2 separate regions of the Homo sapiens genome follow, and region 1 is linked to region 2. Evidence: fine-mapped expression QTL. A gene starts in region 2. The other region holds a variant in brackets. All regions are shown on one strand. Distances are between the middles of the regions. Region 1 holds the start of SARDH (sarcosine dehydrogenase). Region 2 holds the start of DBH (dopamine beta-hydroxylase).

Region 1 (12,470 bases), 110 kb after region 2:
GACGTATGAACAAACATGTACAGCTACCGCATGTGCACCCAGAGGACCAGCCATCACATGCTGCCTAGTAACCTCTTCCTCTCTTTCCACCCACTTATGAATAATTGTGGAAGACTCCCTGAAAGGGGGTTTCTCCAACAATCATCAATGCTGCCTCACACTCAGGAGCAGCCCCCCGCCTGGAATCCTCTCTCTCCCAGGGTGCATCCGCACCTAACTTTCAAAATGTTCTTTTTCTTTTGCAATAAATTGCTCTATGTTGCAGCTCTTTTGCTGTGTGTCTCATGTTTAAATTCTGTTTTGTTGTTGTTGTTGTTGTTTGTTTGTTTGTTTGTTTTGAGAAAGAGTCCCACTCTGTCTTCCAGGCTGGAGTGCAGTGGCATGATCTTGGCTCACTGCAACCTCTGCCTCCTGGGTTCAAGCGATTCTCCCACCTCAGCCTCTCGAGTAGCTGGGATTATAGGTGCATGCCACCATGCCTGGCTAATTTTTGTATCTTTAGTAGAGACAGGGTTTCACCATGTTGGCCAGGCTGGTCTCGAACTCCTGACCTCAGGTGATCCGCCTGCCTCGGCCTCCCAAAGTGCTGGGATTACAGGCATGAGCCACTGTGCCCAGCCTAAATTCTTTAAACTAAGAAGTTAAGAACGGAGGTCTCACAACAGCCCTCAATGGAAGGGTGGGGTGGTGTCCTGCCCAGTGTGGACCTCCACTGCCCTTTTCTGGGATCTGCAGGAAAAGTGAAAGGGATGTGGCTGTGATCCAAGATGTGAAGTGCTGTGCCACCTACGTCAGTATGAATGACTGATATAATTATCTAAGAAAGTCAGCATCCTTTTTCAAGAGTGGACCATAGCTATGCACGTTCGTTCACTCTCATTGAACACCTATAGACACATGATAATGTCTCTACTTCACAGCGGGGGAGTCTGACACACGGAGAGGCTCCCTGAGGTGACCAGGGTCATAGGGCCTCCATGTGGCAGTGCCAGGGACTCTCTCCTGCCCCCTCTTCTGACCATCCCAGGGGGACTCAGGACCCACTGCCACACTCTGTCCCACCTGAACTGTGGGCACTGCCCAAGCCCTGACGAAGCCCAGAACCCTGTCCTAGGCACAGTGGGGGATGTGAGGGGGATCCCAGCTCTCAGGCTGGTCAGGGCTGCCCCCCATCTCCTGCCCCAGTGCCCCATCCCAAGGGAGGGAGCAGGGAGTCTGATTGCAGCGGCGTAGGGGAGTGAGGAGGTGTTGGAGCTTGTCCTCAGCCTCTCAGCCCTCAGTGTGTCAGCCCGCCTGGCTCCTGCCTGCAGAGGTGGCCCCGGACAAGGAGGCATGCCTCCTGCATGTGTCTGTACATACCTTCAGTCCTTGAAGGTCCACAGTCTTCCAGGAGCCCCCAAAAGTGGTGCCCCACCAGGGGAAAGCCAGCTTGAGTGGCACCGAGGAAGGCCCTCCAAGGCTGAACACCCCCACCCCACCACCCACCACCCACCACGGTGCCGCATGGCACAGCACACCTGGTCAGCTGTGGGCAAAAGCCTCCCTCCTCCTTCCGACTGTGCCCAAAAAGCGACAGCTGCTGGCGCCGGAGGCTGCCACGTGCCCCTTCACCACCTGCCTGGTCAGTCAGGGCTCTTCTGACTGTCAGACTGGGGGCTGGCAGCGGCCCCAGCGGGGACAGCCCAGAGCCCCTCCTGCCTGCCACCTCCCTGGAAACAGCTGCCTCCACATTAACCCACTCTCTTGCCCCCTCCAACTCTGTCTCGTACCTGAGTCAGCTTCCCAGGAGTGAGGGCTGAGGACAGCCCTGGGCTTGGGATCAGACAGATGGGTGGGGGTTTTGTCACAGGACTGGGGCCTCGAGCAACAACTTAACCTCACTGCAAAGCAGAGGACCCAGGAACGCCCTCCTCCTCCCAGGCTCAGGGGGTGGTGGGGGTCAAGCGAGGAGAGCGCCTGGCACCTTCGCCTGGTGAGGGTAGGCAGACTTGTGGGGAGGAGCGGCAGGGGGCGGGGAGGCAGCTGCCCATATGGTGAACCCTGGTCCTGCTCATGCAGCTGGATGGTCCCTGCAGCCAGAGGCAGAGGGAGATCCCAGCCAGATCTGACCAGGCCCAGCCCCGCCCACATAGGGGAGGCCCCAGCCTCGTCCCTCCCTGGGGGTGTACCTCCAAGTACCTCTTGTCAGCTGCAGTGCCCCTCGGCCCTAAGAGTGCTTGGCCCAGCAGAGGTGCCTTCACCTTCTTGCTTCCCAAGCAGTGGCCTGGCCGGAACTCCAGGCCTCCCCCGCCCCCCACCCTCGCTGCCAGCCCCATGTCTCCGCCCAGGATCTGGGCGGAGCGTACCGCCCACCACTGCGGCTTCTAGGCCAGCTTAGTTGGGGCTTCTAGGCCAGCCCTGTGGGCAGCTCCCTCTGAGGGCGGCAGAGCAGGGTTGTGAACCCCATGCCCCATTACCCGTAGGCGACCTGGCAGTCACCCTTCCGCTCCAACCCTCATTTCCTCGTCTCTGAAACAGGCGCCTCAGGGTTGCTGCAGTAGACCCAGGCACCACCTGCCTGCTGGAGCCGCCCGAGCTCCCCGCGCCCAGAAGGAGCTATGCACAGGCAGGGTGGGCAGGAAAGGTGGGGTCAGCAGCAGCTTGGGCCAGGGGCCCGTCCACTGCAGGGAGGCTCCTTTGGTGAGGTCATCTCAGCACATGCCCCAGTTTGCTCACCCCCAGGGACAGGATGCTCACTGCCTTCAGAGGCGAGTGAGAAGGCCTGGGTCAGCTTCCCAGGGACAGGGTCTCCTGGTCTGTCTGCGTCCTGCTTTCCCGAGCTCCCAGACCCCTCTGGTGTTTGGGGAGATGCCCCCAAGCCACTGGCTACTGCACAGCACGTAGCCCCCAGGGCAGGGATTCCAGCCTCCATTGACTGTTGGGGACAGCAGTGCCCAGGGAGGGGGCCACACAGCAAGCTGGTGGAGGAGGCAGACCGGATGCTGCAGCCTGACTCTGGGCTGGGGCAAGTTACCCCTTCCCAGACAGAAGTAGACACCCAGAGGAGGGGTGTGGAGGAAACCCAGAAAGAATACACCTCTGGATGCCCAAAGAATCAGAACAGGTGCTGATGGAAAGTCACATCTCCTCCTCGCGCTGGATCAAAGACGGGGCATTTCAATGGCAGTCTGTTAATATTGTAATGATGCCAGCTGCCAATACCGGAAGCGATCGTATAGTAAACTGCTGTAATTAATACCAATCAAATCATTGTGTTCTTATTCACACCGAGGATGTCCGACTGTCTTGTTGCCAGCTTGTCTATCCTCTACATTTACTGAATGCCCAATGTGTACAAAGCACTGCTGGGAAACCTATAGTGACATCTAAGACCCAGCCCCTGCCCTCGAGGGGCTCAGGGTCCACGAAGCAGACAGATCCAGGGAGAGACACGACACCACAAGGCTGGCTTCCTTCCAGCAGGGAATCCAGGAGGACCTCTTAGAGGAGGGGGCCTGGGCTCTGGGCCTGACCACGTGCTGACACCATTCTCAGTCCCTGCCTCAAAGGCAAAGGGCCCACTGGCTTAGGCCCCTGGCTGCCCAGTGGAAAGCTGGCCCCGCCAGTTTGAGGCTTACCTGGGGTGGTGTGGGGGTCCTGGGGCAGAGGACCTCCTCTTTGGATGGTGTGGCTTGCCCAGTGGCCTGAGCTAGGGCTGTGCTCACCCAACAGGGTGACGAATGAGCTCAAGAGGGCAAGGAAGGAGTGTGGCCCAAGTTCTCCCAGGAGTCCTGGACGTGCAAGTGCATGGGAGAAAAACGCAGCAGTCACCACAGCTCCAGGGCAGTGGCCGGGTAGCCCACACTTCTCCTGTCCCTGCACTCAAAGACAAGTTGCAACTGTTGCAAAACTGTTACAAGCCAAGAGGGCAGCACAATGAACCTGCACTTTGGACAAGGGGTGGTGGCTGGGGGCCGGTCCCGGCCTGTTAGCTGTCTGTTAGTATCGTAGGATTTTCATCCGGCAGGGCCTGTTAGCACCCAGCTCCGGTCTGGGAGAGGTGGAAAGGCTGTCTCCCCCCAGGGACTAGTAGTCACAGCTCTGGAGAGGCCAGGCTCCGGACAAGGAGGCCAAGACAGGGTCCTGTACGATCTCGGGCTGGTCTTATCACCTCTCCCTTTGCTGAGACTTAGTTTTCCCATCTTGGAACAGGAGGCTGGAAGCCCTGCCATGTCAGTTTCACAGAAGCCTTGTAAATTTCCCTGAGTAAATTTCCTTCAGTCCTGCTCTAGATCACACCAACAGAGGGGCTGCCACCTCAAAGAAGTCACCCCACCAGGGATAAAATCTACTTGATCACGGTGCATGATCTTTTTAATGTGCTGTTGAATTTGGTTTGCTAATTTTTTTTTTTTTTAGACGGAGTCTTGCTCTGTCGCCCATGCTGGAGTGCGGTGGCACGATCTCGGCTCACTGCAACCTCCGCCTTCCCGGTTCAAGCGATTCTCCTCCCTCAGCCTCCCAAGTAGCTGGGATTACAGGCACGCACCACCGTGCCCAGCTAATTTTTTGTATTTTTAGTAGAGACGGGGTTTGACCATGAATGGCCAAGCTGGTTTCGAACTCCTGACCTTAAGTGATCCCCCCACCTCGTCCTCCCAAAGCGTTAGGATTACAGGTGTGAGCCACCGCGCCCAGCTGGTTTGCTAATATTTTGAGAGGATTGTTGCATCTATGTTCATCAAGGATATCGGTCTATAATTTTCTTTCTTGTAATGTTATCTGGCTTTGGTATCAGGGTAATGCTGGTCTCGTAAAATGAGTATGACTCTATGTTTAGTGCACTCTGAAGAAAACTGTGGTGCAAATCAAAGTCACAGTTGACTCTACATTCAGGAGTGAGGGGCTGCCTCCAGGTTCACTGCCCTCCCCAGCCTCCCCGCCACCGCTCCAGTGGGGACTGTGGTAGACTTGTTCCTCTGCCCTCATGGCCTGGACATACCTGAGCCAACCCCAAGACTCTTCCTCTGGCTCAGGCTGGCCCTCTCTGCAG[G/T]CCCCCACCAGCCCTTGGCCCCGACTTGCTGGCCAGGCTTCCAGGACAGAGAGAGGTGCCTGCAGGCTGCCCTCTGACGGGGCAGAAGTCCAGGGAGGAAGAAGCGGAGGCGTTGGGGGAGGAGGCTCCTCCACCGAGCTCTGCGTGCAGCCCTGTGAAAGAGGACATGAGCAACAGCATCCCAACCCAAACTATAAGAGCCAACATCACCACTGACCAGGAGGAAGGCAGTGCCCCAGTCACCTCTGAGGGCCTCCTGGGAGTCAGGCAGCGTGCTAAAGGCTTCACACGTGTCATCTCAAATGAGACAGCAACAACTGCTACCCATCGTGGAGATGGGAAAACTGAGGGAGAACACAGCCAACAGGTGCCAGACCCAGGTGATTCATGGGCCAGGGAAATTTCCAGAACAATTTTCAAGGGCTGAATTTACACTGCCAAGATTTTATTTTTTCAATAAGAACCTGAAAAAGAAAACTACCACTGAATATCCCCGTGATTTCATGAAGACAGAATGTTTTCTATCCTCTGTCAAAGTAGAAGAGATGCCCTCCCAGGGTAAGGGTGGTCCTTCCTGAGAAGCAGGTGGCTGCCCCCATCTGCCTGACACCGATGCACAGAGGCAGGTGGAAATTGCTCCAGGCCTGAAGCCATCTGGGCACAGGCATTCCCAGGAATGAGCTGCTGAAGTGACCCCCACCTGGCAGTTGTGGCCTGGGGCCGTTGTGGGCTCGGGCTCCTGAGGGCCGGAATGCAGATCCTCATTCCCCGGAGCACCCTCTCCACTCCATGGCCTAACACTGTTTGTGAGTGAAAGAAACATGGTGGATGGAATCCGCGGTGGAATCCATGGAAACATGGTGGATCCCGGCGGCTGAGCCTATGCCAGGCAGGTGCCAGGAGTGCTTCAAAATCATCTCGGGGCCGGGCACGGTGGCTCACGCCTATAATCCCAGCACTATGGGAGGCCGAGGCAGGTAGATCATGAGGTCAGGAGATTAAGACCATCCTGGCTAACACGGTGAAACCCCGTCTCTACTAAAATTTTAAAAAAATATTAGCCAGGCGTGGTGGTGCGCGCCTGTAGTCCCAGCTACTTGGGAGGCTGAGGCAGGAGAATGGTGCGAACCCGGGAGGCGGAGGTTGCAGTGAGCCGAAATTGCGCCACTGCACTCTAGCCTGAGACTAGAGCTAGACTCTGTCTCAAAAAGAAGAAAAAAGAAAAGAAATCATCTCGGGGCACTGTGTCCATGGCCGCAGGCACTGCCACCGTCTGATGGGGACACAGGACATGGGGCTTCAGAAGGACTTCCTGCCCACAGTGGGGAGCTGACCTCAGCCCTGGCGTAGGGCCCCAGTCTGCACTGGGGATTTGGAGAGAAGGATGGAGAAGCAAGAGGGAGGGCAGAAGCTGGAAGCCTGGGCTCACCAGGGTCTGAGACCCACAAGCACCGCCTAGACCCCTCAGCTAGTCAGCCAAACCTTCCAGGGCTCTCATGTGCCTGCCCAAGGGCAGGGGATCCCTGGCATGACCCATGCTGTGCTTTGTGTCTTTGTATGTGTTGCCCTGGAAACTCCCTGTAAAAATCCAGATTTCCAAGCTTCAATCTTGAAAAGCTGGCCACATGGGGCCCAAAACCCACTGGACACACTTAGGTGGGTCACTCCTACTCCAGCTGGCCACAGTTCTTACCCTGCATTTTGCCCTTTTGCATTTCCCGCTGGCATCTGGGAGCTTTGCCCTTCCAGCACTGACCAGGACTCCCAGCACTGACCAGGACTCTCCATCCAGCTGCAGGAGCAAGAGTAACCTTCAAAGGAGATGCTGGTGCTGGCTGGGCAGCCAGGGAACTGTGCGTCTTGCACAGAACGGAGGGTGGGAGGACTGTGCAGTGCTCTCTTTGGGCCCCAGAATCTGAATGCCCTTCCAGATACTCAGGTGAGGGCAGCAGCCCACCACGGATGAAAGTCACTGGTCACCTCCAGGCTGTCTGCCCTGGAAGAGTAGCCTTGGCAGGAAACACCGCCCCTGGTGGCCACACGTGAGTATTACAACCTGGCGGAGCTGGACCCAGTCTCAGAAGGGGACTAGCAGGCAGATAGGGGGTGATCTTACACTGGTTGGGACTGACAGCCTAGGCTCAGCCTGGCTCCTATCTTCTCTTCCAGACCACACCAGCAGAGGGGCTGTCACCTCAAAGAAGTCACCTCCGCCAAGGATAAAATCCACTTGATCAGGATGCATGATCTTTGTAACGTGCTGTTGAATTTGGTTTGCTAATATTTTGGTGAGGATTTTTGCATCTCTGTTCATCAAGGATATTGGCCCATAATTTTCTTTTCTTGTAATGTCCTTGTCTGGCTTTGGTATCAGGGTAATTCTGGCCTCATAAAATGAGTTTGGAAGTGTTCCTTCCTCTTGAATTTTTTGGAAGAGTTTGAGAAGAATCAGCATTAATTCTTTCTTAAATGTTTGGCAGAATTCACCAGCGAAGGCATCAGATATCCTGGGCTATTTTTTGTTAGGAGGTGTTTGATCACTGATTCAATCTCCTTACTCATTATTGGTCTGTTCAGATTTTCTAGTTTTTTGTTTGTTTGTTTTGTTCTTGTGTGTTTGTTTTTTTGAAGTGGAGTCTTGCTCCCGTCACGCAGGCTGGAGTGCAGTGGCACGATCTCAGCTCACTGCAACCTCCACCTCCCGAGTTCAATTGATTCTCCTTCCTCAGCCTCCTGAGTAGCTGGGATTACAGCCTGCACTACCATGCCCGGCTAATTTTTGTATTTTTAGTAGAGACGGGGTTTCACCATGCTGGCCAGGCTGGTCTCCTGACCTCAGGTGATCCACCCGCCTTGGCCTCCCAAAGTGCTAGGATTACAGACGTGAGCCACCACGCCCTGGCCGATTTTCTAGTTTTTTTTGGGATTCAGTCTTGGTCGGCTGTCTGCTTCTAGCAATTTATTCATTTCTAGGTTATCCAATTTGTTGGCATAGTTGTCTATTATTTCTTTGGTATCAATTGTAATCTTTCCTCTTTCATTTATAATTTTCTTATTTATCTGAGTCTTTTTTTATTTTAGTCTAGCCTAAGGTTTGTGGGTTTTGTTAACCTTTTCAAAAAAACTCAACTCTTAGTTTTGTTGATCCTGTCTATTGTTTCTTAAGTCTGTATTTCATTTATTTCTGCTCTGATCTTTCTTTCTTTCCTTCTGCTAACTTTGGCCTTAATTTGTTCCTCATTTTATAGTTCCTTGAGGTGTGAAGTTAGGTTGTTTATTTGAGATCATTCTTAACGTAGGCATTTATTGCTATAAACCTCCCACCTAGAATCACTTTTGCTGCATCCTATGAGGTTTGGTATGTTGCATTTCCATTTTCATTTGCCTCAAGATATTATTTTATTTCCCTTTTGATTTCTTATTCCACTCATTGGTTGTTCAGGACTGTGTTGTTAAATTTCCACACATGTCCGGCCGCCATCCCATCTAGGAAGTGAGGAGCGTCTCTGCCCGGCCGCCCATCGTCTGAGATGTGGGGAGCACCTCTGCCCCGCCGCCCCGTCTGGGATGTGAGGAGCGCCTCTGCCCGGCTGCAACCCCGTCTGGGAGGTGAGGAGCGTCTCTGCCCGGCCGCCCCGTCTGAGAAGTGAGGAGACCCTCCACCCGGCAGCCACCCCGTCTGGGAAGTGAGGAGCGTCTCCGCCCGGCAGCCGCCCCTTCCGGGAGGGAGGTGGGGGGTTCAGCCCCCTGCCCGGCCAGCCGCCCTGTCCGGGAGGGAGGTGGGGGGTCAGCCCCCCGCCCGACCAGCCGCCCCGTCCGGGAGGTGAGGGGCGCCTCTGCCCGGCCGCCCCTACAGGGAAGTGAGGAGCCCCTCTGCCCGGCCACCACCCCGTCTGGGAGGTGTGCCCAGCAGCTCATTGAGAACGGGCCATGATGACAATGGCGGTTTTGTGGAATAGAAGCGGGGGAAAGGTGGGGAAAAGGTTGAGAAATCGGATGGTTGCCGTGTCTGTGTAGAAAGAAGTAGACATGGGAGACTTTTCATTTTGTTCTGTACTAAGAAAAATTCTTCTGCCTTGGGATCCTGTTGATCTGTGACCTTACCCCCAACCCTGTGCTCTCTGAAACATGTGCTGTGTCCACTCAGGGTTGAATGGATTAAGGGCGGTGCAAGATGTGCTTTGTTAAACAGATGCTTGAAGGCAGCATGCTCCTTAAGAGTCATCACCACTCCCTAATCTCAAGTACCCAGGGACACAAACACTGCGGAAGGCCGCAGGGTCCTCTGCCTAGGAAAACCAGAGACCTTTGTTCACTTGTTTATCTGCTGACCTTCCCTCCACTATTGTCCTATGACCCTGCCAAATCCCCCTGTGCGAGAAACACCCAAGAATGATCAATAAAAAAAAAAAAAAAAAAAAATTTCCACACATGTGTAAAATTTCCACTTTTCCTCCTGTTATTGATTTCTAGTTTTATACCATTGTGGTTGGAAACGATACTTGATATGATTTCAATCTTCTTAAATGTGTTAAGACTTGTTTTGTGAGCTAACATATGATCTTTCCTGGAGAATGTTCCATGTGCACTCGACAAGAATGTGTGTTCTGCTGCCATTGGATGGAATGTTCTGAATCTATCTGTTAGGGCCATTTGGTCTGTAGTGTTGCTCAAGTCTCCTGTTTTCTTATTGATTTTCCAGCTGGATAATCTGTCCACTGTTTAAAGTGCTGAAGTCCTCTACTATTATTGTAATCTATTTTCCCTTCAGTTATGTTAATATTTGCTTTACAGAGTTAGGTGCTCCCATGTTGGGTGTATATATATATATAGAGAGAGAGAGAGAGAGAGAGAGAGAGACAGAGAGACAGAGAGACAGAGTCTTGCTCTGTTGCCCAGGCTGGAGTGCCGTGGCATGATCTCGGCTCACTGCAACCTCCGCCTCCCAGGTTCAAGCGATTCTTCTGTCTCAGCCTCCTGAGTAGCTGGGACTACAGGCACGCACCACCACACCTGGCTAATTTTTGTATTCTTTTAGTAGAGACAGGGTTTCACCATATTGGTCAGTCTGGTCTCGAACTCCTGACCTTGTGATCTGCCCGCCTTGACCTCCCAAAGTGCTGGGATTACAGGCGTGAGCCACCGTGCCCAGCCTAGTGCATGTATTTTTTGAATTGTTATATCCTCTTGATGAATTGATCCATTTATCATTATATAACAACTGTCTTTGTCTCTTGGGATAGTTTTGATTTAAAGTCTATTTTGTCTGATATAAGTGTAGCCACTTATGTTCTCTTTTGCTTCTCATTTGGATAGAATAACATTTTTCAGCTTATCTGTGTCCTTAAAGCTAAACCAAGTCTCCTGTAAGCAGCATATAGTTGGATTTTGTTTTGTTTTGTTTTTTAATCCATTCAGCTGCTTAGTGGCTTCTGAGTAGATAATTTAATCAATTTAAATTTAAAGTAATTATTAATAGGTAAGGACTTATTACTGCCATTTTGTTAATTGTTTTCTGATTGTTTTGTAGTCTCATTGTTCCTATCTTCCTCTCTCACTGTCTTTATGAGATTTTTTTTTTTTTGTAGTGGTATGCTTTGACTCCCTTTTATCTTTTGTGGGTCTACTACAGTTATTTTTCTTTGTGGTTACCAGGAGGTTTATATACAACATTTTATAGTTATAACAGTTTAAGCTGATAACAACTAAACTTTAGCCACATACAAAAACTCTACACTTTAATTTCTCCTCTCCCACATTTTATGTTATTGGGGTCATACTTTACATCTTTTATATATTGTGTATCCATTAACAAATTATTGCTATAATTATTCTTTAAATTTTATACTAGAGTTAAAATAATTTATGTATCACCATTACAATATGCTATGCTTTGGATGTTTTTGTCTTCTACAAAATTCATATTAAAATTTAGTCCCCAGTGCAACAGTATTGGGAAGTGTGTCCTTTGGGGTGTTTACTTCATGATGGCTCTGCCATTATAAAAGGGATTGATGGAAGAAGTTTGTCCCCTTTTGCTCTTCTACCCTCTGCCTCTGCCGTGTGAGAATGTAGCAAGAAGACCCTCACCAGACACCAGATGCTGATGCCTTGATCTTGGACTCCCCAGCTTCCAAAACTGTGAGAAATACATTTTTGTTCTTTATAAATTACCCGGTCCGTGTCATCCTGTTACAGCAGTGCAAAATGGACTAAGACACAGTGGCAGAGTACTCCCAATTTGACTATATTTTTATCTTTACAGAGTTTTTATACTTTTGTGTCTTCATGTTGTTACTGTCCTTTCATTTCAACTTGAGAAACTCCCTTTAGCATTTCTTGTAAGGCAGTGATAATGAACTCCCACAGCTTTTGTTTGTTTGGGAAAGCCTTTATCTCTCCTTCATTTCTGGACATCTTTCCCAAGGTTGACAGTTTTATCCTTCTAGCCCTGTGAATATATGATCCCACTCTCTCCTGGCCTATGAGATTTCTTCTGAGAAATTCACTGATAATCTCCTAGGGGTTTCCTTGTATGTGATGAATTGCATTTCTCTCACTGCTTTCAAATTTATCTCTGTCTTTGGCTTTTGAGAATTTCTCTTTTTTGAAGATTTTTATTTTTAATTTTTGTGGGTACACAGTAAGTGTATACATTTATGGGGTACATGAGATGCTTTGATACAGTTATGCAATATGAAATAGGCACATCATGGAGAATGGGGTATAAATCCCCTCAAGTATTTATCCTTTGAGTTACCAAAAATCCAATTACACTAAGTTATTTTAAAGTGTACAATTAAGTTAATTTGACTTCTACCTTTCCATTGTGGTTGCCCTTTATATCTTTCTCTTGTCTGATTGTTCTAGCTATGACTTCTAGTACTATGTTGAACAACAGTGATGACAGTGGCATCCTTGTCATGTTCCAGATTTTAGAGGAAAGGGTTTCAGTTTTTCCCCATTCAGTATAATCCTAGCTGTGGGTCTTTTGTATATGGCTTTTATTATGTTGAGGTATGTTCCTTCTATCCCCAGTTATTTTTTTGTTTGTTTTTTGGTTTTTTGTTGTTTTTTTTTCTTTGAGATGGAGTCTCGCTCTGTTGCCCAGGCTGGAGTGCAGTGGCACGATCTCCGCTCACTGCAAACTCCGCCTCCCAGGTTCATGCCATTCTCCTGCCTCAGCCTCCTGAGTAGCTGGGACTACAGGTGCCCACCACCACACCTGGCTAATTTTTTGTATTTTTAGTAGAGACAGGGTTTCACCATGTTAGCCGGGATGGTCTTGATCTCCTGACCTCGTGATCCACCCACCTCGGCCTCCCAAAGTGCTGGGATTACAGGCGTAAGCCACTGCGCCCAGCCCTTCTATCCCTAGTTTTTAATTTTTTTTTAAAATTATGAAGGGACATCGAATTGTATTAAATGCTTTTTCAGC
Region 2 (12,470 bases):
TCGTGAGTGTTCCCACTCCCCTGCCCACCCGTCTCCGCACACTCTGAGCTCTCCTTCCACACAGCCTGCTCACATCCAGACCCTTGCCTCAGCGTCTGCTTTTGGGAGAACCAAAACCATAACAGGACAAAAAGAAGGGAACACAGTCTCCGACTGCACTTGGGGGTCCCACCAGAGTGTGACGGTGCCAGCAGACACTAGGAGAGGAGGGCGCTTGTATTTCCTGTGGCCACTGTAACAAATGACCAAAAACTCTGAGGCTTAAAACAACACGATTTTTTTTTTTTACAGTTCTGGAGGTCAGAAGCTCTAAAATCAAGGTGTCTGCAGAGCTGGCTCCTTTTGGGGGCTCTGGGAGGGGAATCTGTTCCCACCTTTTCCAGCTACCAGAGGCCTCCACATCCCTTGGCTCATGGCCCCTGCTCCGTCTTGGAAGCAGCCTCCTCTCCTTGGACCCCATCAATGCATCTCCTTCTCTCTCTCGTAGGACCTTTGTGATGACATGGGGTCCACCCAGCCAATCCAAGACCACCTCCCACCTCCGGGTCCTTAATCTAATCACACTGAATGTCCCTTCCCCAGGTAGCCTACCCGACTTGCAGGGATCTGGACGTGGCCATTGGGGGACATCCCTCTGTCTGTCACACCACACGCCAGAAGCTCAGAGAGATTCCAGGGAGGGAGGCGGATTCTCATGTTCTCCGAGACCCTCCTGGGCCAGAGCCCTGCCTGTTGGACCCTGTGATGTCAGTGGGTGCAGCAGCCCCCGAGATGGATGCGGGTGAGGGCAGCCCGGGGCTGTCTCGCTAGCCCTCACTGCATCGGCCCCATTCTGGGTCAATGGTAGGTCAACCTGGTGGATCTCTGAGGTGACCAAGCTTACTGACAGATGAACTACAGCCTCAGGAAGAGGGTCATGGCTGGCAGGAGCCAGCGGGGGGCAAGACCAGCAGCCCTGAGTGCTGGTGCAGGCCACGCAGGGCCCAGCCTCTGTAGCCAGAAGTCAGCGCCAGTGCCGGTCCTGAGCAAGATGGCCATTTCACAGATGAGGAAAGAAGGCTCAGGGCTGTGGGGACTGTCCGGGTGGGTCACATGGCCGGCAGGTTTCAGGGCCTCTCTTTCCATCTGGTGCCCACAGTTACGCTGTGGCTTGGGTGTGGTCTGGAGCTACTGCCTCAGGACCCACCACCATCCTGGCAGTGTGGTCCCTTCAGAAAAGCTGAAAATGCAAAAATCAGGCACATGCACCTCCCCCCATGAGCTGCTCAAGAGAGAGGAGCAGTCACGCATCCTTATGGAGAAAAGGAGAAGCAGGACCCAGAAAGGGTTTCCCTGTAAGATTCCTCAGGGCCCAGCAGGCCTCAGCCCCAAGATTGAGGCCAAATTATTGGAGGGGTGTGTGTGTGTGTGTGTGTGTGTAAAACTGAGTATGTGAGCATGAGCCCAGAGCTGGGGGTGCAGGCCACGCAGGTGTGAGAGTCCACCTCCCCATCTCGCTGACCCCTGTGTATGGAGGAGAGATGGAGGCGGGGGAGGCTGTGTCCTGCCCAGGCCAGCCGCCTGCCAGTGACAGTGGAGGACTTGCTCACAGTGGGGCTGCTTGGGGTCACACAGGAGTGGCCTGGCAGGCCTGGCAGCCCCAGCCCTGGAGCCAGCCACAGACTCCTGGGTTCTGCTTCCCTGGGAGCTTCCAGGGGAGTGTCACTGGGGCTCACGATACCGACCCCTTCTGGGATCAGTGGCCCCTTGCTTTTGGCACAGAGCTTCAGGGCCAGAGGGTGCCTCTAATCCAGTAGCTGAGGAAAGCTTTCAGTGGTGCTCTGGGCACCTCTGTGACCTGCCCTGGGCCCAGTCCTCATGCTGATCCCACTGTAGCCACCCTACTCAGTGCCCCAGGCCCTGGACACCTCAGGCCATGGGATATCCCAAGCATTCAAACTCTCACGGCCACCTACGCTTATGAGCAGAGGCAGAGGCATGGTGCCACCGCTGCCTCCTCAGGCAGGATATGCTTTTTGTTTGTTTGTTTTGAGACAGGGTTGTTCGCTGTCATTCAGGCTGGAGTGCAGTGGTGTAGTCAGGGCTCATTGCAGCCTCAAACTCCTGGGCTCAAGCGATCCTCCCGCCTCAGCCTCCCGAGTAGCTGGGACTACAGTCTTGTGCCACTATGCCTGGCTAATTTGTTTTTATTTTTATTTTGGTAGAGACTGGGTCATGCTATGTTCCCCAGGCTGGTCTCGAACTCCTGGGTTCAAGCAATCCTCCCGTCTTTGCCTCCTAAAGTCCTGGGATTATAGAGGTATGAGTCACTGTGCCCAGCCCAGAATGTGCCTCTTAACTTTCATACCGCAGCCCCTATGCTCAGGACGAGGAGGGACATAGGCCAGCTGCCCCAAGTTCCCCAAGGGGACTGTGCCACCCTGGAGTGGGCTCTGTGATGGACAGAGTCACCGTCTCCCAGCAGCTCCCAATCCATCCCATCACAAGTCAGGTCTAGGCACTGCCATCAGACTGATAGTTGAATTTTTCCTGCCAAGAGGAGGTCCCTAAGAGCCTGAGCCACAGGCGAGGGACAGTGCTGTCCTGTGGCCAGGCCCCGTTGTCACTGGGGAGTGGCCTGGCCTGTTCACTCACCCAGCTCCAGTCTGCACCACCGTCGCTCCACTTGGGGTTGTCACTGCCTGAGGTTAGGACGTCAGCAGAAGCCAGCCTCATGTGGCAGAGGCGATGGGGAATTACAGCCTGCAAAGGCTGATGGCATCAGAGAGATTCAGGAAAGCAAAGGGCTTATTAAAAAGCTGAAATTGGTTCTAAACAAGGTCAGCCGTCGATGCGCCTTGGAGGGAAGCCAGGCGCTGAGCAGCAGGAATGGGGCTTATTTCCTGACACCGTGGCCGTGACACCCTGCACCTCCCCGGCCTACCCCACCCCCAACCCCACTCCCACCCCCATTCCCATCCCCACCCCCACCGCCACCTCTGGAGGGCAACGTGCACCCAGACACTGGAGCAGAGGCAGCAGGGGTGGGAGCAGGGAGGAAAGCCCCCCGCGGGGCACCACAGGGAGGCATGTGGCCAAGAGAGCACCTGGCAAGCAGGTGTCACCTCTGAGGAGGGTGAGGGCAGGAGGAGAGCTGACTGTTGCTTCCTTACCCTGGGGTCGGATTGCTCCCTTTTAAAATCCATTAATGCAAGGAAGGGCGCAGCCACGGGGCCATCCGATTGGATTCGCTCCCTCCCGCCCGGCCCCAGTCTCCGCAGATTTTCTCTGCGGTTGCATTTTTCATTTGAGCGTCCCTTCCTCTTGACTCCAGTGGAATTTTTCTGACCTTGGCTGACAAGGTGTGCAGCCCCCTCCAGCTCAGGGCACCCTCTTTGGGGTGCTTGCCCCAGGCACTGGCCCACCCTGTGAGCTCAGGCGCATTGTCTCGCCTCTCCGAGGCTGACTCTCCTGTGTCTGAGACAGGGATGATCGCACACCCAGCCACCCAAGGCTGGCCAGGATGGAGGCAGGGCAGGGGAAGCCCTGGTGCGGCCTGACTTGTGTCTCCTGTCCCTCCCTAGGACTTAGTTATCAGTATTTTGGAATCAGCTGAATCATTTCTGTCAAATGCTAGAGGAAAGCCAGTTTTGAGTTGGATAAAGAAAATGTCTTTGATTCCTGTTAAAAATAAACATGTGTGCATAACACTGCTGAGCACGAGACCGCACCTGCCGTCCCTCCTTAGAGCTCCCAGCAGCTGTTGGTCTTTGGCGTATCCGGGAGAGGAGCGAGGCCTGGAGGTGTGTTGAGCCGTCCAAGGGCTGGTAGCATCAGGGGCTCTTCACTGCCTCTCGCTCCACAGAACCGCTGGGTTGAAGGAAGCTGGAGGGATCAATTGTCCTTGTCATCCAACTTCCTGTGTCTGTAGATGGGGAGGAGGCGCTGGGTTGGAAAGCGCTTCTCTGAGGACGCCAGCTGCGCATTCAGGAGGGCGGAGCAGGATATGACCCCAGAGCTCTGACCCCGGAGGAGCAGGAGGGGTGCCTGGGGCCTCAATACCCCAGAGGGGAGAGAGGTGCCCCCCTTCCCACAACGCGGGCCCCAGCTGGTGCTCGTTTAGCCTGTTGTCTAGCTGGAGCCACCTGGGTGGCCACCAGGCTGCTGGGAGGGCTCACCCCTGAGCTGGGTGTGCTGTGGAGCCCGTGACCCTCACCTCTGCCTCTGCTGGCTTTTGTTATCCCGTGCTGGGAACACCAGTGCCTGCCCACCCCGGAGGCTCTTCGTATCACCGGCTCGCTGTGGCCGCTCCCCAGTCCCGAGAGTGAATGTCCGGGATGCAGCAGACACCTGCTTACAAGGCACAGGTGAGGAGGTTTTGGAACTAATCTGAGGCATGAAGGTGAGGTGCTCTCAGGCGACGGAGGTGGCATGTCCTGATGGGAAAGCCAGGCCTTCGGAGGCTGAGACCCTTCCCAAGGCTCACCAGAGAACTCCCAAGAGTGTCTTTCCCCTGGCCTGGGAGACAATTTCACACCAATGCCACACTCTATTGCACAGGTGATTATGCACTTGGACCTCACCTGCCTGGGCTGTGGGTGGGGGCGAACGGTGCCCCTCTGGGTGCAATCAGTGGGGAGGGGCTCATGGCCTGAGCTTGGCTTTGCAGGATGGCCTGGCCACTGTGGGGCAGAGAGCACTGCCTGCGAGGGCCAGGGGAAGGCTGGCACTTTCTCCAAATTTCACGTTCGTGCAAAGACACAGTCATTCCTTTCTACAGCGTAGAGCTCAGAGCTGAAGCAGCCTCCAGACCTGCTGTCATGGGTATTTAAGGACCTAAATGTTGCTGTCAGCCTATGACATGAATGTGCCCCTAAGGCTAGATTCTGGGTTTCTCCAGAGAGACGAGAAACAGGAGGGAAAAGGAAGGAAGGGAGGGAGGAGGCTGGGGAGGAGGGACAGCTTCTAGTCCAGCTGGAGAGATCTGTCAACCCAGCCTGGGGGGTGGAGCTGGAGGGATCAAGCAGAATGTCCTGAAGGCAGCTGCCCTCAGTCTACTTGTGGGAGAGGACAGGAGGGAGAGGTGCCGTGGTGAGACTGACCCTCGGGCCCACGGGTGGATGATGGCAAAGGTCCTGTGGCAGGTGTGGGAGAAGCAGGGCTGCGGCCAGCTGCCCTGAGAGGCTTCAAATTCAGGCCAGATCTGCTCTGGGCAAGAGGAAGCTGTGGGTTTGGGAGCTTCAGAGACAGGGGAGCAGGCCTGTCACTCACCCTCTTTTCCTTAAAGGCTGTCACCCCCAGCAGTGCACCCTGCAGCCTGCCTATCCCCTGTGCAGCTCCAGCTCCGTCTGTCCCCAGCAATGCACCCCACGCCCATGTCCCCCACTCCCTATGATGCTCTCGCGCCTTCTGGAGCAGCAGTGGTACCAGCTGGAGGCTGTGGAAAAATTGAGAGGAGACAAAAGTGGGAAGAGCAGGCCGTGGAGAGAGTGTCTAAACACAGGGACTATTTGGAGATTGTCTTATTTTTGGTTTGAAATGGGCCCACCTGCTAGTATTGTACAAACGGCTCTGCTCGCTAGGCCAGGCCTGCAGTGGCTACGGGCCTATCCTTCACTGGTCAGCCTGGAGCAGCTCCTCGGACCTCAGTCTGCTCATCCGTGGGTAGAGGCGACGCAGACCCCATCCCACTGGGGACTGGGCCAGACAGCCTGTGAGGCAGTCAGCTGGTGCCTGGCCAGAGGGTGTCTGAAAGGCCTCTTGGCTGCAGGGTGCATCTGCTTTTGGGACAGCTCTTCAGAGCCATCTCAGAAGGGACAGCATCCGCCTGTCTACTTCAACTCCCACTGATGACGTCCATGTGTCATTAGTGCCAATTAGAGGAGGGCAGCAGGCTGAGTGCTTGGCCTGGGGCGCAAGCTTGTGGGAGGGAAAATTGGATTCCCCGCTAGACAAATGTGATTACCCGTGCTGCCTGGACCCACCCCATTCAGGACCAGGGCATAAATGGCCAGGTGGGACCAGAGAGCTCACCCCAGCCATGCCCGCCCTCAGTCGCTGGGCCAGCCTGCCCGGCCCCAGCATGCGGGAGGCAGCCTTCATGTACAGCACAGCAGTGGCCATCTTCCTGGTCATCCTGGTGGCCGCACTGCAGGGCTCGGCTCCCCGTGAGAGCCCCCTCCCCTATCACATCCCCCTGGACCCGGAGGGGTCCCTGGAGCTCTCATGGAATGTCAGCTACACCCAGGAGGCCATCCATTTCCAGCTCCTGGTGCGGAGGCTCAAGGCTGGCGTCCTGTTTGGGATGTCCGACCGTGGCGAGCTTGAGAACGCAGATCTCGTGGTGCTCTGGACCGATGGGGACACTGCCTATTTTGCGGTGAGTCTCTCCTCCCTGCCAGCTCTCCAAACCCTTCCTGACCCGGCACCCCATCTGGCCGTCTTTCTGCACTCACCCTCCTTAACCCAGAAAGTTCTTCTGTCACCTGTCAGTGTTTGAGTTGACTCTGCTCTGAGCCAAGTCTGCACCCCGAGCTTGGGCATCATGGGGATCTCAGTTTGAGGACAAAATAGGAAAGACATGCTTTCCATGGTCCTTGACTGCCCGCCCCAAATCATGGGACCCAGTAATCCCAAGGAATGGAACTATACACAGAGGACGCACACACCACACACACTCGTGCCGCTCCACACCCCACACGCGCATGAGCACAGACCCCACGACCCTCGGCCCTGTAAACAATGCCTAGTACCACGTCCCCAGAGCACACATGCCCACTGATGTGGGCCAGGTGGTGGCGCGTGGCTGGGCACAGCATGAGGCCTGCACACCCATGGGATCCAGCCTGACCTACTGTGCTTGTACCCGTGGACCAACTGAGCAGGTGCAGACACCCTGCCCCTACCCATAGGTGTTGAACAAGCCCCACAGGGCTCAGCCAAAACTGTTAGGATGGGCTCTTGACTCCTTTCCGTCCAAATTTACCTCCACTCTTGTTTCACAGGGTGGAGAAAGGGGAAAAGTTTCCCTTCAAACTGGAGGGGACTTTAGGCCCTTCCACAAGCTGCAGGGGGTCCCCGAAGTGGGCGAGCCCACCGCCTACAATGGGTCCTGCTCCAGCCTTCCTTTCCACATGGGACTGGCCACCAGGGCTTCTTTGTGGATGAAACCCAACTCTCTCCACAGAAACACACAAAGGAGTGACAAAAAAGTTTTATTTCTGAAGTCAGGAGGTGCCTGCTTTATCTGGGAGTGCCGAGCTGGAGCGGGGGAGCTGTGTCTGTGCGGAGCGGCCGGCTCCAGCTCTGCATCTTGGTCTCACCATGGGCTGGTGGGGCGGAGAGTCCCTCTCTGCCTTTTTGGGTGTTGTGAATTCATGAGGGCAGATGGTGGCTGCTGTTTCTGGAGCTGAGCTTGCCCCCTCCAATTCCCAAGACTCGGCCAGGAGGCACTTGCCTGTGTCGCTAGTGAGGCTTAGGGCCACCCAGGTAGGGTGAGTGGAGCTGCCTGGGAAGGGCCCTGCTCTGACCCATAGGGCTGCACAGATTCCTGTGCACAAAGACACTCTGTGGCTCAGGTTCCAGCCAAGAAAGACCTGGGACAGCCCTGATTCTGAGCCGTCAGCCGTCTGGAGGAGCAGCTGAACCCCATCGCTGACAGTTTGGGGTTCTTCGCAAGCCTCTGCCATGAGGCACCCTGAGTGCAGGAGCATTTGCTCCTCTCTGGGGCAGCGTCCCCCCTGCCTGCATTTCCCGGCTGCTAGGGAAGCCAGAGGAAGCCAGGTGACTTTGCCTTTCCGTGCACTGGCAAGGTTAATTTGCACAACAAATTCCTACGAAAGCAAATGTCAGCCTTATTATTCCTCCCTAAGCAATATGTTCAACTAATATCTTCTTGATTTCCAGCTGAAATATCACAGGCGAACTTTCTGCCTCTGTTTAAAATGAGTCTCTCGGCAAACCAGCGGTGTCCCCAGCGGGGTTGCATTGTGTGGCTTTTTTCTCTAGGGAAAGTTTTGCAGTATCTTTTGCAGATTTCTTTTTTCTCAAGGAAATGAAGAAAAGATGTTTTACCCTGAATGTAAGATTAAAAAGAAACACAACCCAAAGTCCTTAAGGCCAAGGGCCCGAGGCTTTCTTGGGGTTTCCATGGGAAAGGCCAGGCAGGGCAGGGAAGCAGCTTCGTTTGGACAATTCTGGTGGGCTCTGGGTGGCTGGGGTGGTCTCTAGTTGCCTGGTTCCTGGCCCTAGGGTGTTTTAGGGTTGGGGCAATATTGGCCTGGGGTGTGAGAGTCAGGTGGAGGAGGTAGCTAGGGATATGGGCTTGGTGTGGGTCGGAATGTTAGGAATATGATTCTCACACACGTGTGAATGTTGGAGGGCAGGACAGGTGTAAACAACTCTGACCATCTGTTTGAGCCTTCAATCAATTAATAGATGCCAAATAGACAAATATGGAATCTAAGAAGGGCCCTTCTTGAGTACGAAGGGCAGCCTGCTTGTTGGGGAAGGCTCCTCGCTGTCTCTCAGTGGGTCTCCCTGGTGGTCTTCCATGTGACCTGGCCTCGGGCCACCGTGTCCCTGCCCCTTAGGGCCCAGTGCAAGGGGAGCGGCCGGAGACGGGGAGGGCAGAGGTCACTGATCCAGATCCCAGGAAGCATCCTCGGAGAATGCAGCAGGTCCAATGCCTCCCTGGGCCTCAGTTTACCTTCTCCAAGCAGGGCTGGGACTAAGGTGAGGGGAACAATGCCTAGGCTGCAGGGTTTAAAGTGGTGCTTCAGGCTGGGTGTGGTGGCTCATGCCTGTAATTCCAGCACTTTGGGAGGGCAAGGCAGGAGGACCGCTTGAGGCCAGGAGTTCAGGACCAGCCTAGGCAACATAGCGAGACCCTATCTCAAAAAAAAAAAAAAAAAAATCCAAAATTACATGTATTTATAAAGTAATAAAGCAGTGCTTGTTCTCAGGGTTGTGCCAGTGCAGGGTGGGCACCTGCTATCAATCACCATCTTAGATGTGGCACCCTGGTTTCTCTCTCCTTTCCTGTTCATGTCCCACCCTGTTCCCAACTCTCCCCTTTCTGAGGCTCCGCAACTCTCCTGCCTGCATGAATGTGGGCAGCATTGGTCTGAGGCATTGTTCCCAGTCTTGAGGAGGCCTTGGGAGCCTCAGGCATCTTCTTAAGAAGCTCAGTGTCCCGCCCGCCAGGCCCGGGAATGCCCATGGCTAACAGAACCTGTGACCTGCTGGCAAGTGACAGCCCTGGTTCCTGGCTGCAGAGGAGGAACCAACTCCACTGTCGGGGCTCATCTCCACTGTCTCCAGGCAGAAATGGAGATAGAAGGTGTGAGTGAAGCCACAGCCCCAGGCAGAACCCTCAGATCCACAGGGACTGAGGCCCAGCATCCCCAGATCAGCTGGCAATGAATGCGGAGCTCTGCCGGGGAATGCCCTCTTCCCCTGTGGATTGGCCCGGCTTGGCTCCTTCATGCCTGGAGCCCAGTGCTTGTCTCTGCAGGACGCCTGGAGTGACCAGAAGGGGCAGATCCACCTGGATCCCCAGCAGGACTACCAGCTGCTGCAGGTGCAGAGGACCCCAGAAGGCCTGACCCTGCTTTTCAAGAGGCCCTTTGGCACCTGCGACCCCAAGGATTACCTCATTGAAGTAAGGGGTGGCCGCGAGTACCCAGGAGGGCGTGGGCTGCGTGTATCATGCTGCCATCCTGTGCCAATGTCATAGTACCTTTCCTGTCCCTGATAAGTCTGGGGCCTGGGCCTGGCCAGCTATGACAGAGAGAAAGCCAAGGAGGATGGCCAGAGGCAGTGGTGGGGCCAAAGCACTTAGGATGGTCCAGCTCTGCTATTGCCCCTGAGCCCTCAAAGACGCAGCTCTTTGCCAACACGTAGCTGACATGGTTTCTAGATGCGGGGCTTGTGCTGAAGCCTCTCCCATTGGACTAGACCTTGCTTCTGGATGTCTCTCTCCTCCTGGTCCTGTTAACCATCAGGTGGGATTCTGGAGCCCAGGCGACCTGGCTTTCCATCCCGGCCCTGTTGCCAGCTCGCTGTGAGGCTCGGGACAACTGCCCCCCTCCTCTGGACCTCACTTTGCCCATCTGTAAAATGGAGATGGGAACTAGATGATCTGTATGGCCTGACCAACTCTGGGAGTTCATGGGAGCCATAAAACATTGTAAAAGCCATAGGCTTCTTATGCTGCTCTAAGAGCCCCCCAACCTCTTAGGGAAAGCAACCCACCTTGCCCTTGAAGACAAAACTCTTTTAACTCTAGCACACCTGACAGCTTTTGTCTTGTGTAAGTAATCCTTTGGTGTGGCAGTGGCCTGGGCTGGCCGTTAGTGCCAGGTCTTAATCATGGGTGTAGCTGAGTGACCACACGGGAGGCCAGTGCCATCGAAAGATTGATTGCATTTCCGGAGAGAAGGGGCACCTGTGCCGTGCAGGGCCACCTGCAGAGCCCTGGGTTTGGTCAGGAGGCAGATGCAGGAGCTAGGGGAGAGCCCAGGCCTGAGGCTTTCTTGGGGTTTCCATGGGAAAGGCCAGGCAGGGCAGGGAAGTTGCTTCATTTGGACAATTCTGGTGGGCTCTGGGTGGCCGGGGTGGTCTCTAGTTGCCTGGTTCCTGGCCCTAGGGTGATTTAGGGCTGAGGCAATATTGGCCTGGTGTGTGACAGTCAGGTGGAGGAGGTGGCTAAGGATATGGGCTTGGGACGGGTTGGAGGGTTGGGAATATGATTCTCACACAAGCGTGAATGTTGGAGGGAAGGGCAGGTGTAAACAACTCTGGCCATCTGTTTGAGCCTGCAATCCATTAATAGATGCCAAATAGACAAATACGGAATCTAAGAAAACAGAACAGCTGGCTGTTTGCCAGATGAGGAAACTAAGGCCCGGAGACGGGGAGTGGATGTACCCAGGGGTTCGGGGTGTGCTGGGGCAGACCTGGTGCCAGAAGAGGTGTTCTTCCAGGAGGTTGTTGAGCCCTTACCCTGCTTCCCAGTGGACGAGGCAAGGGTGAGCAGAGAACCCTCTGGAAGCACCTCACAGGGGGAGGCCAATGCCTGTGTGTGCTCAGCCCAGTGGCCCCAGGCCAGGTATAGGGGCCTTTGCCTGGAGTTCTGGGCGTCCCCTGCACAGGGCGGCCCATCGGCTTTCCGCAAACTCAAAGAGCAAATTAGCCACCCACACGGGTCTGCACTGTGGAGTGCCCAGAAAGCTATGAAAGGCACTTTCCACACCCGATCCCCGTTTCCATTCATGACAGCATGTGAGGAAGCCAGCCCCACAGCTTGCCTCCTGAGTCTGCCTGTGGCCTCCAGCACCGCGTAGATCCATGGAGCTTTCTGTGGCTGCTTGGTCCCCTCCTGCCAAGCTGGTGGTGACTACATAATATAGCGTGGCTCCGCAGCTCAGCGTGACCATCAGCAAGCCCCAGGGTGTTTCCTTCCCTTCATAGAGGGCACTGAATCCTCAGGCTGGGCTGCTGAACTGACCAATGATCCCCCACACCCAGTCCCCAGTGACCTTGGGGTTGGTGGAGGGAACAAATGTTCCGGCCACACTGGCTCACGGCGGGCCCAGTAGTCACTGGTTGAATGGATGTTAAGTGAATGTAGGTGGAATGTGTTTAGAAGAGAAAAGTATTTGATGGCCGGTGCAAATAGGGGATCCTGGGGGTCGTCAGCCCGGGATTTGGCCCCAGCCAGGGCCATGCAAGCCTCAAGGGTCCCTTATTCACAGAGATGAGAGTGAGGTGTGTCACCTGGTAGGTGTGGGTGGGCAGGGATGTGGCATCCTCTCAGGAGCCCAACTCTGGGGGCTCTGAGAGGGCGACCAGCTGAACCCTGTCTCGGCTGCAGGACGGCACTGTCCACTTGGTCTACGGGATCCTGGAGGAGCCGTTCCGGTCACTGGAGGCCATCAACGGCTCGGGCCTGCAGATGGGGCTGCAGAGGGTGCAGCTCCTGAAGCCCAATATCCCCGAACCGGAGTTGCCCTCAGACGCGTGCACCATGGAGGTCCAAGCTCCCAATATCCAGATCCCCAGCCAGGAGACCACGTACTGGTGCTACATTAAGGAGCTTCCAAAGGGCTTCTCTCGGCACCACATTATCAAGGTACGTGCGGGTCCAGGGCCGAGGTCCTCGCCCAGCCCTGCCTTCCTCCCGGGCCTGGGTTGTCCCTGACCCTGGAGAGCTGTCCACAGTCCTGGTTGGACCAGGTGTCCTCTTATCACTGGAACCTCAGGCACCTGCCTGAGCAGGGGAGCAGCAAGTGGTCTTGGCTTCCCCATCACTCTGCTCACTCCCCTACCCTCAAAGGGCCTTGGAGCTCCCACTTCCCTGCCTGGACCAAAGTGACCAACATCTTGACTTCTGCATCTTTCCTTGGGACTGGAACTGCTGTCTGTCTGCCAGGCCACCTCCCCCTTCATGAAAAAGCAGCTCGAGTCAGAACTCACTTGCTCTCGAACAC

Evidence for each region.
Region 1: its variant is fine-mapped to the expression of DBH in esophagus muscle (GTEx, PIP 0.95).

What each region holds. Positions count from the first base shown.
Region 1 is chr9:133,736,076-133,748,545 of GRCh38, forward strand. SARDH (sarcosine dehydrogenase) reads right to left here and starts at 2,277. Exons shown (of 21, transcript NM_001134707.2): 1 at 2,179-2,277. RefSeq lists a silencer at 7,000-7,150 and enhancers at 7,162-7,221, 9,592-9,886. The variant G/T (reference allele first, on the strand shown) is at 5,033.
Region 2 is chr9:133,630,353-133,642,822 of GRCh38, forward strand. DBH (dopamine beta-hydroxylase) reads left to right here and starts at 6,011. Exons shown (of 12, transcript NM_000787.4): 1 at 6,011-6,358; 2 at 9,494-9,640; 3 at 11,855-12,112. The coding sequence starts at 6,020. RefSeq lists an enhancer at 7,276-8,011.